Linked DNA regions of Homo sapiens: all the other regions are linked to region 3. The links come from fine-mapping of genetic effects on gene expression. A gene starts in region 3. Each other region holds a variant in brackets. All regions are shown on one strand. Distances are from middle to middle. Region 1 overlaps LOC124903064 (a long non-coding RNA gene). Region 2 overlaps ZNF26 (zinc finger protein 26). Region 3 holds the start of ZNF140 (zinc finger protein 140).

What was found. PIP is the estimated chance that this variant, and not a neighbour inherited with it, causes the effect.
Region 1: its variant is the best candidate, but not a certain one, in a credible set for the expression of ZNF140 in whole blood (INTERVAL, PIP 0.80).
Region 2: its variant is the best candidate, but not a certain one, in a credible set for the expression of ZNF140 in whole blood (INTERVAL, PIP 0.55).

The regions. Positions count from the first base shown.
Region 1 is chr12:132,977,033-132,981,273 of GRCh38, reverse strand. All of the region lies in intron 1 of LOC124903064 (a long non-coding RNA gene), which reads right to left. Among named protein-coding and RNA genes, the nearest start is that of ZNF26, 7.2 kb to the left of the region's middle. RefSeq lists a silencer at 4,103-4,241. The variant T/A (reference allele first, on the strand shown) is at 2,538.
Region 2 is chr12:133,026,153-133,030,393 of GRCh38, reverse strand. It overlaps ZNF26 (zinc finger protein 26), which reads right to left. Exons shown (of 4, transcript NM_019591.4): 4 at 3,292-4,241. Among named protein-coding and RNA genes, the nearest start is that of ZNF84-DT, 8.9 kb to the left of the region's middle. The variant T/AT (reference allele first, on the strand shown) is at 1,841.
Region 3 is chr12:133,079,044-133,083,284 of GRCh38, reverse strand. It overlaps ZNF140 (zinc finger protein 140), which reads right to left and starts at 2,362. Exons shown (of 5, transcript NM_003440.4): 1 at 2,213-2,362; 2 at 1,956-2,012; 3 at 56-182. The coding sequence starts at 1,964. RefSeq lists enhancers at 2,374-2,573, 2,644-3,333.

The sequences.
Region 1 (4,241 bases), 100 kb after region 3:
AAAAATAGCAGTCACTTTGGAGAACAGTTTGACCATTACTTAAAAAGTTAACCATAAACTTACCGCATGACTCTGCAATGCTACTTCTAGATAGCTAAGAGAAAATGAAAACTTATGTCTGTATAAAGTCGTTTATGATAATGTTTATAGCAATATTATTATTATTATTATTATTATTATTATTATTTTGAGACGGAGTCTCACTCTGGCCCAGGCTGGAGTGCAGTGGCACGATCTCGGCTCACTGCAAGCTCCGCCTCCCGGGTTCACGCCATTCTCCTGCCTCAGCCTCCTGAGTAGCTGGGACTACAGGTGCCCGCCACCATGCCTAGCTAATTTTTTGTATTTTTAGTAGAGACGGGGTTTCACCGTGTTAGCCAGGATGGTCTCGATCTCCTGATCTCGTGATCCGCCCACCTCGGCCTCCCAAAGTGCTGGGATTACAGGCGTGAGCCACCGCACCCGACCAGCAATATTATTTATAATAGCCAGAAACTGGAAACAACCCAAAATGTCTATCAACTGCTGACTGGATAAAGAAAAGTGAAAGCAACTCAAATGTCCATCAAATGATGCCTGGATAAACAAACGTGGTATAGCCATAACGATGGAATACTGTTCAGCAATTAGAAGAGGGGGGAAGTGCTGATACATGCGATGTGAATAAACCTCAAAAACATGATGCTGATGTCAAGAAGCTAGACAGAAAAGTCATCGCATGTATGATTTTGTGGATATAAAATGTCTAGAAAATGCAAATTTGTAGAGTGAAAAATCACATCAGTAGTTGCCTAAGGATAGGAGTAGGAACAGGGGTTAAATGTAAATGGGCATAAAGAACTTTGGTAATGAAGATGTTCTAAGGCTGCATTGTGGTCATGGTAGTAAAACTCTATGAATTTACTAGTATCACTGAATTGAATACTTACAATCGACACATTTTGTGGCATGTGAATTGTATTTCAATAAAACTTAATTAAGGCCACTGAGTTTGACTATTGGAAATGAGAGAGATAAAAGCAGAAATAAATGAGGTCGAAAGCAGAACAACAGCAGAACTAATAAATAAAAACATTTGTTTTTGAAGAACGTTAACAAAATAGAAAACTCGGTGTTCTAATCCAGCAAAAAGAGAAAAAGTACAAATATACAAAATAAGACATACAAAGAGGAAATAACTACTGAAACAAAAGATAGATGTTTTTTAAATCATAAAAGACGTTTTTGCCCAACTCTAGGCAAAAACATTTTGAAGACCTAGATGAAATGATTAAATTCTTAGGAAAATTGAATTTTCCAAGATTTACCTCAGAAGACTCAACAGCCTACTTTTCATCAAATAAACTTGTGAAGAACCACCCCACAAAAAAGTAACAGATTTTGATGGTTTCATAGGAAAATGCTGCCAAACTTCAAAGACCAGATAATCCCAATGCTCATAAATTATTCCAGAATAAATAATACTTCTGGCCGGGCGTGATGGCTCACACCTGTAATCCCAGTACTTTCAGAGGCCGAGGCAGACGGATCACGACGTCAGGAGATCAAGACCATCCTGGCTAACATGGTGAAACCCCGTCTCTACTAAAAATACAAAAATTAGCCGGGCGTGGTGGTGGGCACCTGTAATCCCAGCTACTCAGGAGGCTGAGGCAGGAGAATCACTTGAACCCAGGAGTCGGAAGTTGCAGTGAGCCGAGATCGCGCCACTGCACTCCAGCCTGGCAACAGAATGAGACTCCGTTTCAAAAAAGAACAAACAAACAAACAAAAAAACTTCCGAATTTCTGGAGCAATTATAACAATACTATGTTAACCTAAAAAAGTATCACAGAAAATGAAAACAAAAATTGATTTCACTTGTCAACAGTGATGCAAATATCTTAAGTCATAAACAGAGTGAGGTATTGAAGTCTTCAATTATTACTCTAGAATATTGCTCTCATGAATTCTGTCAGTTTTTGCTTTATATATTTTTATGGTCTGTTATTAGATATATAAGTATTATAATGTCCTATGTTGAATATTTTATTAATCTACAAGGTTATTCTTTGTCTTGTGATCTGTTTTGGTTTAAAGGCTATTTTGTCTGATGCAACCATCACTGCTTTCTTTGGGATATTTACATGGAATATCTTTTTCAATCCTTTCACTTTCTACTATTTGTGTTTTTGGATGTAAAGTCAGTCTCTTATAACAGCATATAGTGGAATTATGTATTTTTATTCAATCTTCAAATGTAAGTCTTTTGATTGAAAAGTTTATCATTTACATGTAAATTAACTACTAATGAGGAAGTTTTTTTTTTGAGATGGAGTTTCGCTCTGTCACCCAGGCTGGAGTGCAGTGGCGCAATCTCAGCTCACTGCAACCTCCGCCTCCCGGGTTCAAGTGATTCTACTGCCTCAGCCTCCCGAGTAGCTGGGACTACAGATGCGTGCCACCACGCCCAGCTAATGTTTGCATTTTTAACAGAGACGAGGGTTTCACCATATTGGTCAGGCTGGTCTCGAACTCCTGACCTCAGGTGATCCACC[T/A]GTCTCAGCCTCCCAAAATGCTGGGATTACAGGTGTGAGCCACCGTGCCTGGCCGGAAGATATTATTTCTGTCATTTTGCTTTGTTTTTGAAGTGGCTTATAAGCGTTTTTATCTCTAATTTCCTGCATTGCTGTCTTCTTTTGTGTTTATTTATCTATTTTTTTTGAGAGGGAGTTTTGCTCTTGTTGCTCAAGCTGGAATGCAATGGCACAATCTCGACTCACTGCAACCTCTGCCTCCCGGGTTCAAGCAACTCTCCTGCCTCAGCCTCCTGAGTAGCTGGGATTACAGGCGCACACCACCATGCCCGGCTAATTTTTTGTATTGTTAGTAGAAACAGGGTTTCACCATGTTAGCCAGGCTGGTCTCAAACTCCTGACCTCAGGTGATCCACCCACCTTGGTCTCCCAAAGTGCTGGGATTACAGGGGTGAGCCACTGCGCCCGACCTAGTTGATTTTTTATAGTGGAATGTTTAAATTCCTTTCTGATGTTCTTTTGTGTCTGTTCTATAGCTATTTTTTGTGGTTGCCATGAGGAGTACATTTAACATCGGAAACGATAACGCTCTAATTTGAATTTTTACCAGTTTAACTTTAATAACAGGTGAGAACTCTGCTCCTTTAAAGCTCTGCTCCCACCCCTTTGATTTGCTGATGTCACAAAATTACATCCTTATACATTGCATGCCCCAAAACATACATTAATCCTTCTTTTAAATGCATTAATCTCTTAAATTATGTTTAAAAAAAAAGAAAATGTGGAGTTATAAACCAGAGTTACAATAATGCTATCGTTTGGTCTAATGATTATTTTATGGTCTACTCAAATTTTTTTTTCTTTTGAGACAGTGTCTCACTCTGTCACCCAGGCTGGAGTGCAGTAGCACAAACATGGCTCACCGCAGCCTCAAACTCCTGGGTTCTCCCAAGTCAGCCTCCCAAGTAGCTGAGACTATAGGCATGTGCCACCATGCCTGTAGGGTCTAGCCCTACAGGGTCTGTGGGATTTTCTCCCCATGTGCGGAGACGAGAGATCATAGAAATAAAGACACAAGACAAAGAGATAGAAGAAAAGACAGCAGGGCCCGGGGGGCCACTACCGCCAAGACGCGGAGACCGGTAGTGGCCCCGAATGCCTGGCTGTGCTGTTATTTATTGGATACAAGACAAGGGGGCAGGGTAAGGAGCGTGAGCCATCTCCAATGATAGCTAAGGTCATGTGGGTCACGTGTCCACTGGACAGGGCACCTTTCCCTGTTTGGCAGCCGAGGCGGAGAAAGAGACAGCTTACGCCATTACTTCTGCATTTCAAAGACTTTTAGTACTTTCACTAATTCTGCTACTGCTATCTAGAAGGCAGATCCAGGTGTACAGGGTGGAACATGAAAGTGGACCAGGAGCGTGACCGCAGAAGCACAGCATCACAGGGAGACGGTCAGGCCTCCGGATGACTGCGGGCGGGCTTGACTGATGTCAGGACCTCCACAAGAGGTGGTGGAGCAGAGTCTTCTCTACCTCCCCCGGAGAAAGGGAGATTCCCTTTCCCGGTCTGCTAAGTAACCGGTGCCTTTTCTAAGCACTGACGCTACCGCTAGACCATGGTCCGCTTGGCAACGGGCGTCTTCCCAGGCGCTGGCTTCACCGCTAGACCCAGGAGCCCTCTGGTGGCCCTGTCCGGGCATAACAGGAGGCTCGCACTTGT
Region 2 (4,241 bases), 53 kb after region 3:
AACTATAATTGTATGTATGTTGGGATTCCTTTTCCTTCTTGTCAAGGTACAGATGGAGCAGAGCTATCTTGTATGTCAGTAGCCCCACTCATGCATTCTTTGTACTCAGACCTGCGTGACTTGAAAGCATGAAGTAGCTAGAATGGTCATCACCCCACTTCCCTCAAGATTGAGGAGTGCACAAAAAGGGGGGTACCTGTAACTGTGGGACCAGCTCAAACAAATTAACCATTTCTTAAGTTGTTGCAGGTACACACACAGCCAAAATTGCCTTGGCACATGCAATGCAAAAAGCTTTAATTTCTAATTGTTATCATCACCAGCCTGACAGGCCTGCATTGGCATCATCTGGGTCTAGCTGGAAATGCCATAAAATCTTGACCCACCCCAATCACAGAGACAGATCTGAGCATTGCCTCTTGTCTCCTTGCCAGTTGACTTGGTATAAAGCTTTTTTTTTTTCTTCCTCAAAAGAGGGAACCATAATGTTGGCTTCTGTGCATGTTGTAAAGTAAGCCTATTGCTCAGTAACAAATATATCTTTCCATTTTTTCTTTTTTCTTTTTTTTTTTGAGATGGAGTCTCGCTCTGTCACCCACGCTGGAGTACAGTGGCGCAATCTCGGCTCACTGCAAGCTCTGCCTCCCGGGTTCACGCCATTCTCCTGCCTCAGCCTCCCAAGTAGCTGGGACTATAGGCGCCCGCCACCACTGCCAGCTAATTTTTTGTATTTTTAGTAGAGATGGGGTTTCACCATGTTAGCCAGGATGGTCTCGATCTCATGACCTCGTGATCCACCTGCTTCAGCCTCCCAATGTTAGCCAGGATGGTCTCGATCTCATGACCTCGTGATCTACCTGCTTCGGCCTCCCAAAGTGCTGGGATTACAGGCGTGAGCCACCATGCCCGGCCCATTTTTTAGTTTTTCTTTTACAAACTTTAAAACATTATTGTATTCATAATTTTTCAGTTTATATGTGGTTTTTGGAAGATTTATTCCCAGACAGTTCTCATTTTAAATTTAACATTTTATAAGATATATTTCTAAGTAGCTTATTTCTATTGCTATAATGAATATGAGGGTTTTTTATAGTATTTTTTGTTATTGTTGTTGGTTGTTTTTGAGATGGAGTCTTACTCTGTCACCCAGGCTGCAGTGCAATGGCATGATCTTGGCTCAATGCAACCTCCACCTCCAGGATTCAAGTGATTCTTCCATCTCAACCTCCCAAGCAGCTGGGATTACAGGCGCTCGCCACCAAGCCTAGCTAATTTTTTTGGTACTTTTGTAGAGATGGGGTCTCACCATGTTGGCCAGGCTTGTCTTGAACTCCTGACCTCAGGTGATCCACCCACCTCGGCCTCCCAAAATGCTGGAATTACAGGTGTGAGCCGCCACACCCTGCCTATAGTATGTTTTCTTATTGGAAGTTGGTGGAATCATGGACTGAATGTGCCGCTTAAGTCATATATTGAAGCCCTAACCCCCAGTGTTGCTGTACTGGGAAGTGGAATGTTTAATAAAATAATTAAGGCTAAATAAGGTCATGAGAAGCCAGGAGTGTTGGCTCACGCCTGTAATCCCAGCACTTTGGGAGGCCGAGGCAGGCGGATCACCTGAGGTCAGGAGTTCGAGACCAGCCTGGCCAACATGGTGAAACCCCGTCTCTACTAAAAATACAAAAATTAGCCAGGCGTGGTGGTGGATGCCTGTAATCCCAGCTACTCAGGAGGCTGCGGCAGAAGAATTGCTTGAACCCGGGAGGCAGAGGTTGCAGTGAGCCAACTGCGCCATTGCACTCCAGCCTGGGCGACAAGAGCGAAACTCTTAAAAAAAAAA[T/AT]GTTATGGGATCTTTGAGGTGTCACTTTTCTTGTCAGGAACCTCTGTGGCCAGTGGCACCTTTGCTCGAGTTTTGCTCAGGCTCGCTGGGCTCATTCTGCCCCCTTGGCCTAGCATGCTGTTCTCAGCTCACACTACCAGCCCAGATCCCACACCTCTAAGGGAGACTGAGAGTCAGGTGTGGAGCAGCAAGGGGTGTGTGAGCAAGCATGGGATTCAGCCACTGCACCGACACACTGGCTGCTGCTGTGGGGCAGGCAGCTCCAGGTGCCAGCAGGGGTGCCAGCTCTCTGTGAGGCTGCGGCTGGACTAGGGACACCACAAGCAGCTTCCATGGCTGGCACTGGAGAATGCGGTGTTGCCCAAAGGCTTGGAGACCCCAAACACCACAGGTCCCCAAAGAGGAAGTCACAGCCCTGGCTCAAAGATCTCCCAGGTCTGGGCTCCTCGAAGGGCTGAAGCTCTTCTCTTTTTCTCTTCACCCACAATGTGGCAAGCAAGGGGCATGTTTCAGCTGTGTGTGTTACAGCTCTTTCAGCCTTGCCATTCAGCGGGTCCTGAGTTCTTGTCCTGCGACCAGAAAGAAGTAGGTAGGCAGACAAGTGAGGGTGAGCAAGACGAAGGGGAGCTTTATTGAGTGATAGAATAGCTCAGAGGAGACCGCAGGGGGCAGCTCCTATCTGCAGCTAGCGTGTCCCCCAGTGTTTAGCTCCTTGCACAGAGGGTACCTCCTCTCTGCAGCTGGTTGTCCTGACGAGGGCTCAGCTCTCAGCAGAGAGGAGGCCCTAGAGTGACTGGCTCCTCTCTGCAGGCAGATGGTCCCCCATCTGATCACCTCTGGCTGAGCCTGTGGTTTGTACGGGTCTGAGAGAGGAGGAAGTGCTTGCCGATTGGTTCATGGGCGGCCATGGACGGCCAGGAAAAGGAACCATAGGTTCCCACTCCGGGTGGGAAGCTGGAAGAGTGGCTCAGTCCAAGTACCAAGGCCTCAAAACCAGGGAAGCCTGTGGCATAACTCCCAGTTGGAGGCTGAAAGCCCAGGAACCTTAGGTTCTGATGTTGAAGGGCAGAAGAAGATGATGTCTCAGCTCCAGGAGAGAGAGAATTCACCTCTCGTCAGCCTTTTTCTTCTGTCTGGGCCCTCAACAGATTGGACAGTGCCCACTCACATTGGGTGAGGGTGAATCTTCCTTACCTGATTCAAATGCCAGTCTCGTCTGGAAAAACCCCCACAGGCATAGCCAGAAATAATACTTCGCCAGCTATCTGGGTATCCTTTAATCCAGTCAAGCTGACACCTAACATTAATCATCACAAGATCTTGCTTGCAAATAACCACAAACATTCCTCTTTCTTTCCAGCCCATATACCTCTTAATCTTCATTCCTTGTCTTACCACATTGGTTAGGACTCCAGCTCAACGCCGGGAGAAATAATGAGAGAGCAGTGATCTCAGCGGTTCCTCATTTTAATTATACTGTTCGTAAGGTTCTGCTTGAAGTATGTTTGCTGAGGGGTTTATAATCGTAAAAAGGTGTTGCATTTTATTCTGAGTTTCTTAAGAATTTTATAACAAAGAATTGTTCCAATTTATTGAATATTTTTCTTAACCTATATAGGTATTTATGTTTCATATCACTCTATTTCTACATTATTTGGTTAAAATGATAAATATATAAACTTTAATATTGAATTATCTTTGACATATTTATTTATAAAGTTGAACTAGGCCAGATGCAATGGCTCATGCCTGTAATCCCAGCACTTTGGGAGGCCAAGGCGGGCAGATCACCTGAGGTCAGGAGTTCGAGACCAGCCTAGTCAACATGGTGAAACCCCACCTCTACTAAAAATACAAACATTATCCAGGCGTGGTGGCAGGTGCCCGTAATCTCAGCTACTTGGGAGGCTGAGGCATGATAATCACTTGAACCTTGGAGGCGGAGGTTGCCATGAGCTGAAATTATGCCACTGCACTCCAGCCTGGGTGACAGAACGAGACTCTGTATCAAAAAAAAAAAAAAAAAAAAAAAAAGTTGAACTATATGAAGTTGTCCTTTTTATGGGTTGGTCCAGTCACTCTTCTACATAACAGAACACCTCAAAATTTAGTGACTTATTATTTTAACTTGATTACCTAAAAAAAGAGACTTATTGGCCAGGCGCAGTGGCTTACGCCTGTAATCCCAGCACTTTGGGAGGCCGAGGCAGGTGGATCATGAGGTCAGGAGTTCAAGACCAGCCTGCCCAAGATGGTGAAACCCCATCTCTACTAAAAATACAAAAATTAGCCAAGTATGGTGGCGAGCACCTGTAATCCCAGCTACTTGGGAGGCTGAGGCAGAGAACTGCTTGAACCCAGTAGGAGGAGGCTGCAGTGAGCCAGGATCGTGCCACTGCAC
Region 3 (4,241 bases):
ACAGCCACCCTAACGGTCAAATTTTGCCTTGAGGGAGATGAAGAAGAATACTTACCCAGTGAGACCAGATGGCCATAGTTCTCCAACATTACACATCTGTACAAATCTCTTTGAGCAGGCTGAAGCCATTTCCACTCCTCCTGGGAGAAGTCTATGGCCACATCTCTGAATGTCACTGACCCCTGAAATGACGGACAGATATTTGCATGACCAGCACGCATGCCCCCAAACTCCCTCATCAAGGAATAAAATGAGTCTCACTGTGGAGGTTAGGCAATGTGTCTAAGTAGTAACAGTGAGAGTTTTCAGAATTCTGAGTAATTATATAATGAAGAGCCTAGCTCTTGTGTTTTGTTGTATAACTGGAGAAAAGGAGAAAAACATAAATTATCTGTCCTGAGATAATTTACAATTTTATTCAAAATAAAGGATTATACACATGAACAATATGGATTTTTGGCATTGGTTGTAAAAATTCTTAAGATTTTACAGTATTCCTTTATGTTAATAAACAATGTATATTTTCCTTAATACCAGCCTATTTTAATATAATTCAGCCAGAATTTCTTCAGGGTAATAATTCGCTACAGCAGATAACAGCACCACCCTTCAAATGGGGCATACAGTCTCAAGTTTGTCACAGTTATCCCTAATCCTAAAGAAATACCTGTGAAACTTAGTGGTAATTTTAGCAATGTCACAGAACAAGGAGGATAAGCAATAAAGAATCTTGATTCCGCAAGAAGAGAATGTAATACCTCCCAGGACAGAACCTAAAGCACTTTCCCTCAGAGTTAGGGGGAATAATATATAAGCCCTTGCTTTGCAGCCTGGTTTTGCACCACTTGAGTGATCCACATTGATCTATAAGGCATGAATGGGAATTTAAAATGTCTCAAACTAGTAGCAGTCCCAGATGGATGGCAGTTATAATTTACAGTTTTGAAGTTTAATAAAAAAGTGATTAAAGACTGTTGACTAATAAAGCAGCTGTTTCCTACACAGCAAGATCTGCAGCAGAGGTGGAAATTGGATTCCCCAGCAAAACTCAGAGAACCTCTGAATTTGGAGAGAAGTATGACAAAAAGTAGGATAAAGAAGTGGAACTGAAATGAGGGACTCATTTTGAATAGTTGACCCTGTTATCCCCACTGCTGTGAAGCACAATTACCAGCCAAGCCCTTAGGCCAAATCAAAATAAAAATGTGTTCCTTATGTCATGTCTGAAAAATGAGCTCTGAGGATTCGGAGATTTTGTTTTGGTCACTTCTGCATCCTCAAGACTTAGAATGAGTTGCACATTAGAATCACTTGGAAGGACTGTTAGACTGCTGGGCCAAATTCTCAGTTTCTGATTCAGAAGGTCTGGGGTAGGACTCAAGAATATTCATTTCTAATACGTTCTCAGATGATGCTGATACTGCTGGTCCAAGGATCACACTGTGGGAACCACTGAAAGTAGAGGTTCAGTAAAAACATATTGAATAAATGAATAAAGGGGCGCTGGAGTAACGTAAAGCACTCCTCATTCTAACACTGTGGGAAAGAGGAGGCGATGTAACAGCTGGCACCCTACCCTCTCACCCTAAAACATGCCAGCCAGGTCAGAAACCCCGCCCACATCTGGATAGCTTCCTGTCACTCTCTTCATGTATACTTAAGTATAAGCACCTGAAAAGGAGGAACAAGGGACAGGGTCCTGGGGTTCTGCCAGGCAGGTGGTTGTAGGAGAAAGAAAGCCACGTCCCAAGTCCTGAAAAACACGGCTGCACTTCACAAAGAAAAGCGGAAACAGGCCAAGTGGGTTGGCTCACTTGAGGCCAAGAGTTTGAGGTTACAGGATGCTATGATCGCTCCACTGCCTGGGCGACAGGAGGAGACCCTGTCTCTCTCTTAAAAAAAAAATAAAAATTTATATATATATATATATATATATTTATCAATCATTAGCTTACCTGAGACATAGCTCACAGAAGGGAAGGAGGAGATCAGAAAAGTGTAAAATGGCAGACCTGGCAGAGAGAGAAAGGAGCCCTGAGCGAACAGGCCAGCTAGGCCGCGCCCAAGTCACTAGATTCCCGCACTGGGGATTCCCGTGGCCCCCGCTCCGCGCCTCCCACGTAGAGAGCAGGGCGCCCTGAGAGATCGCGCTTGGACCACTGGCGCCGGCTTTCTCTTCCTGCCACGGCGCGCCTCCCCAGAACCCCCTCACCTAACAGTGGCCACAGAAGGATGCGTTTCCGTGGTGCTTTCCGCCAGGTGGGCGTAGCGTTCCAGGGCTCCGGACCGAGTCACCGCCCGGGGCCATCCGGCGCAGACCGGGAGGGCTCCTTTCGTTGCCTACAGCCAACACAGGCCAGACGCTCGGCGCCGCCCCCCAGGGCCCCTCCGCGGGCGTCGCAGGAATTGCGTCTTCAGAAGCCTCGCCGACGTCACCCCAACCAGGCCGCCGGCCTCAAGAAACTACAATTCCCAGAAACCAATGCGGCCCTGCGCGCAAGGGCTTTTCGTTCCTACTGGAACTCCCAGAGCGCCTCGCTGCCGTGCCCAGAACGCCAGGAGACAAAGAACGAGGGCCTGCGACAACTACAATTCCCAGAGCCATCGCGGCCCGGTGCGCCAGAGCATAGGGGCTATCCTCCCACGCCCAGAGCCGAGAAACAAAGAACCCGGGTCCTAGGCAACTACATTTCCCAGAAATAACCGCGGCCCCCCGCGGAAGAGTACACAGACCTTTGTGTTCCTATAACTGCCAGAGTGTCTCGCGGCCAAGCGCACAACTAGCGGAGAAACGAAGAACGTGGAACTCAGGCCACCACACTTCCCAGAAACAACCGCGACCCCGCGCGAGAGAGCATATGGCTTTCCCCGCCCCACTGCAACTCCCAGGGTGCTTTGAGGCCAAGCGCACATCATCGAAAGACAAAGAACACGAGCTTCAGGCAACTACACTTCCCAGAACCTCTAGCGACCGTGCGCAAAAGAGCGGAGGACGTTCTTCCCCTACTACGACTCCCAGAGTGCATCGTGGCCACGCCCAAAGCCGGAAGACAACGCAGAGCTCTGGCGACTACATTCCCCCAAACTCCTGCGCCGCACGCCAGAGGGTATAGGGTTTTCCTCCCCTACTACGACTCCCACAGTGCTTCGCTGGCGTGCACACACGGCCCAGAGACAAGGAACTGGAGACTCAGGTGACTACACTTCCCAGAACACACCGCGGCCCAGCAAGAGCCCAAGACCGCCTCTATTAAACAACTAGGATTCTTAACAACGACTGTGGAGTCAGTACTTCAGTCTAAGACCTTTTGCTACTGGAAAGGGGTCCGGATCTCAGACTCTAAGAGAGGGTTCTTGGATCTTGCACAAGAAAGAATTTGAGGCGAATCCATAAGGTGAAAGCAAGTTTATTAGGAAAGTAAAGGAATAAAGAATGGCTAATCCATAGGCAGGGCAGCCCCGAGGGCTGCTGGTTGCGCATTTTTGTGGTTATTTCTTGATGATATGCTAAACAAGGGGTGGATTATTCATGCATCCTCTTTTTAGACCATATAGGGTAACTTCCTGACGTTGCCATAGCCACTGGTGGGCAGTGAGGACAATCAGGTCGTTCTCATCGCTATCTCGGTTTTAGTCGGCTTCTTTACTGCAACCTGTTTTATCAGCAAGGTCTTTATGACCTGTATCTTGTGCCAGCCTCATGTCTCATCCTGTGACTACGAATGCCTTAACCTCCAGGGAATGCTGCCCAGCAGGTCTCAGCCTTATTTTAACCAGCCCCTACTCAAGATAGAGTTGCCCTGGTTCAACCGCCTCTGACAGTGGAAGACGTAGCAATGAGGACAGCCAGAAGTCACTCTCATTGCCATCTTGGTTTTGGTGGGTTTTAGCCGGCTTCTTTACTGTAAACTTTTATCAGCAAGGTCTTTATGACCTGTGTCTCATGCTGACCTGCTGTCTCATACTGTGAGTTAGAATGCCTAACGGTCTTGGAACGCAGCCCAGTATGCCTCAGCCTTATTTTACCCAGTTCTTATTTAAGATGGAGTTGCCGGGTGCTGTGGCTCATGCCTGTAATCCCAGCACTTTGGGAGGCTAAGGCGGGCAGATCACCTGAGGTCAGGAGTTTGCAATCAGCCTGGCCAACAGGCCAGAGTGTAACCTCGTCTCTACTAAAAATACAAAAATTACCTGGGCATGGTGGTGGGTGCCTGTATTCCCAGCTACTTGGGAAGCTGAGG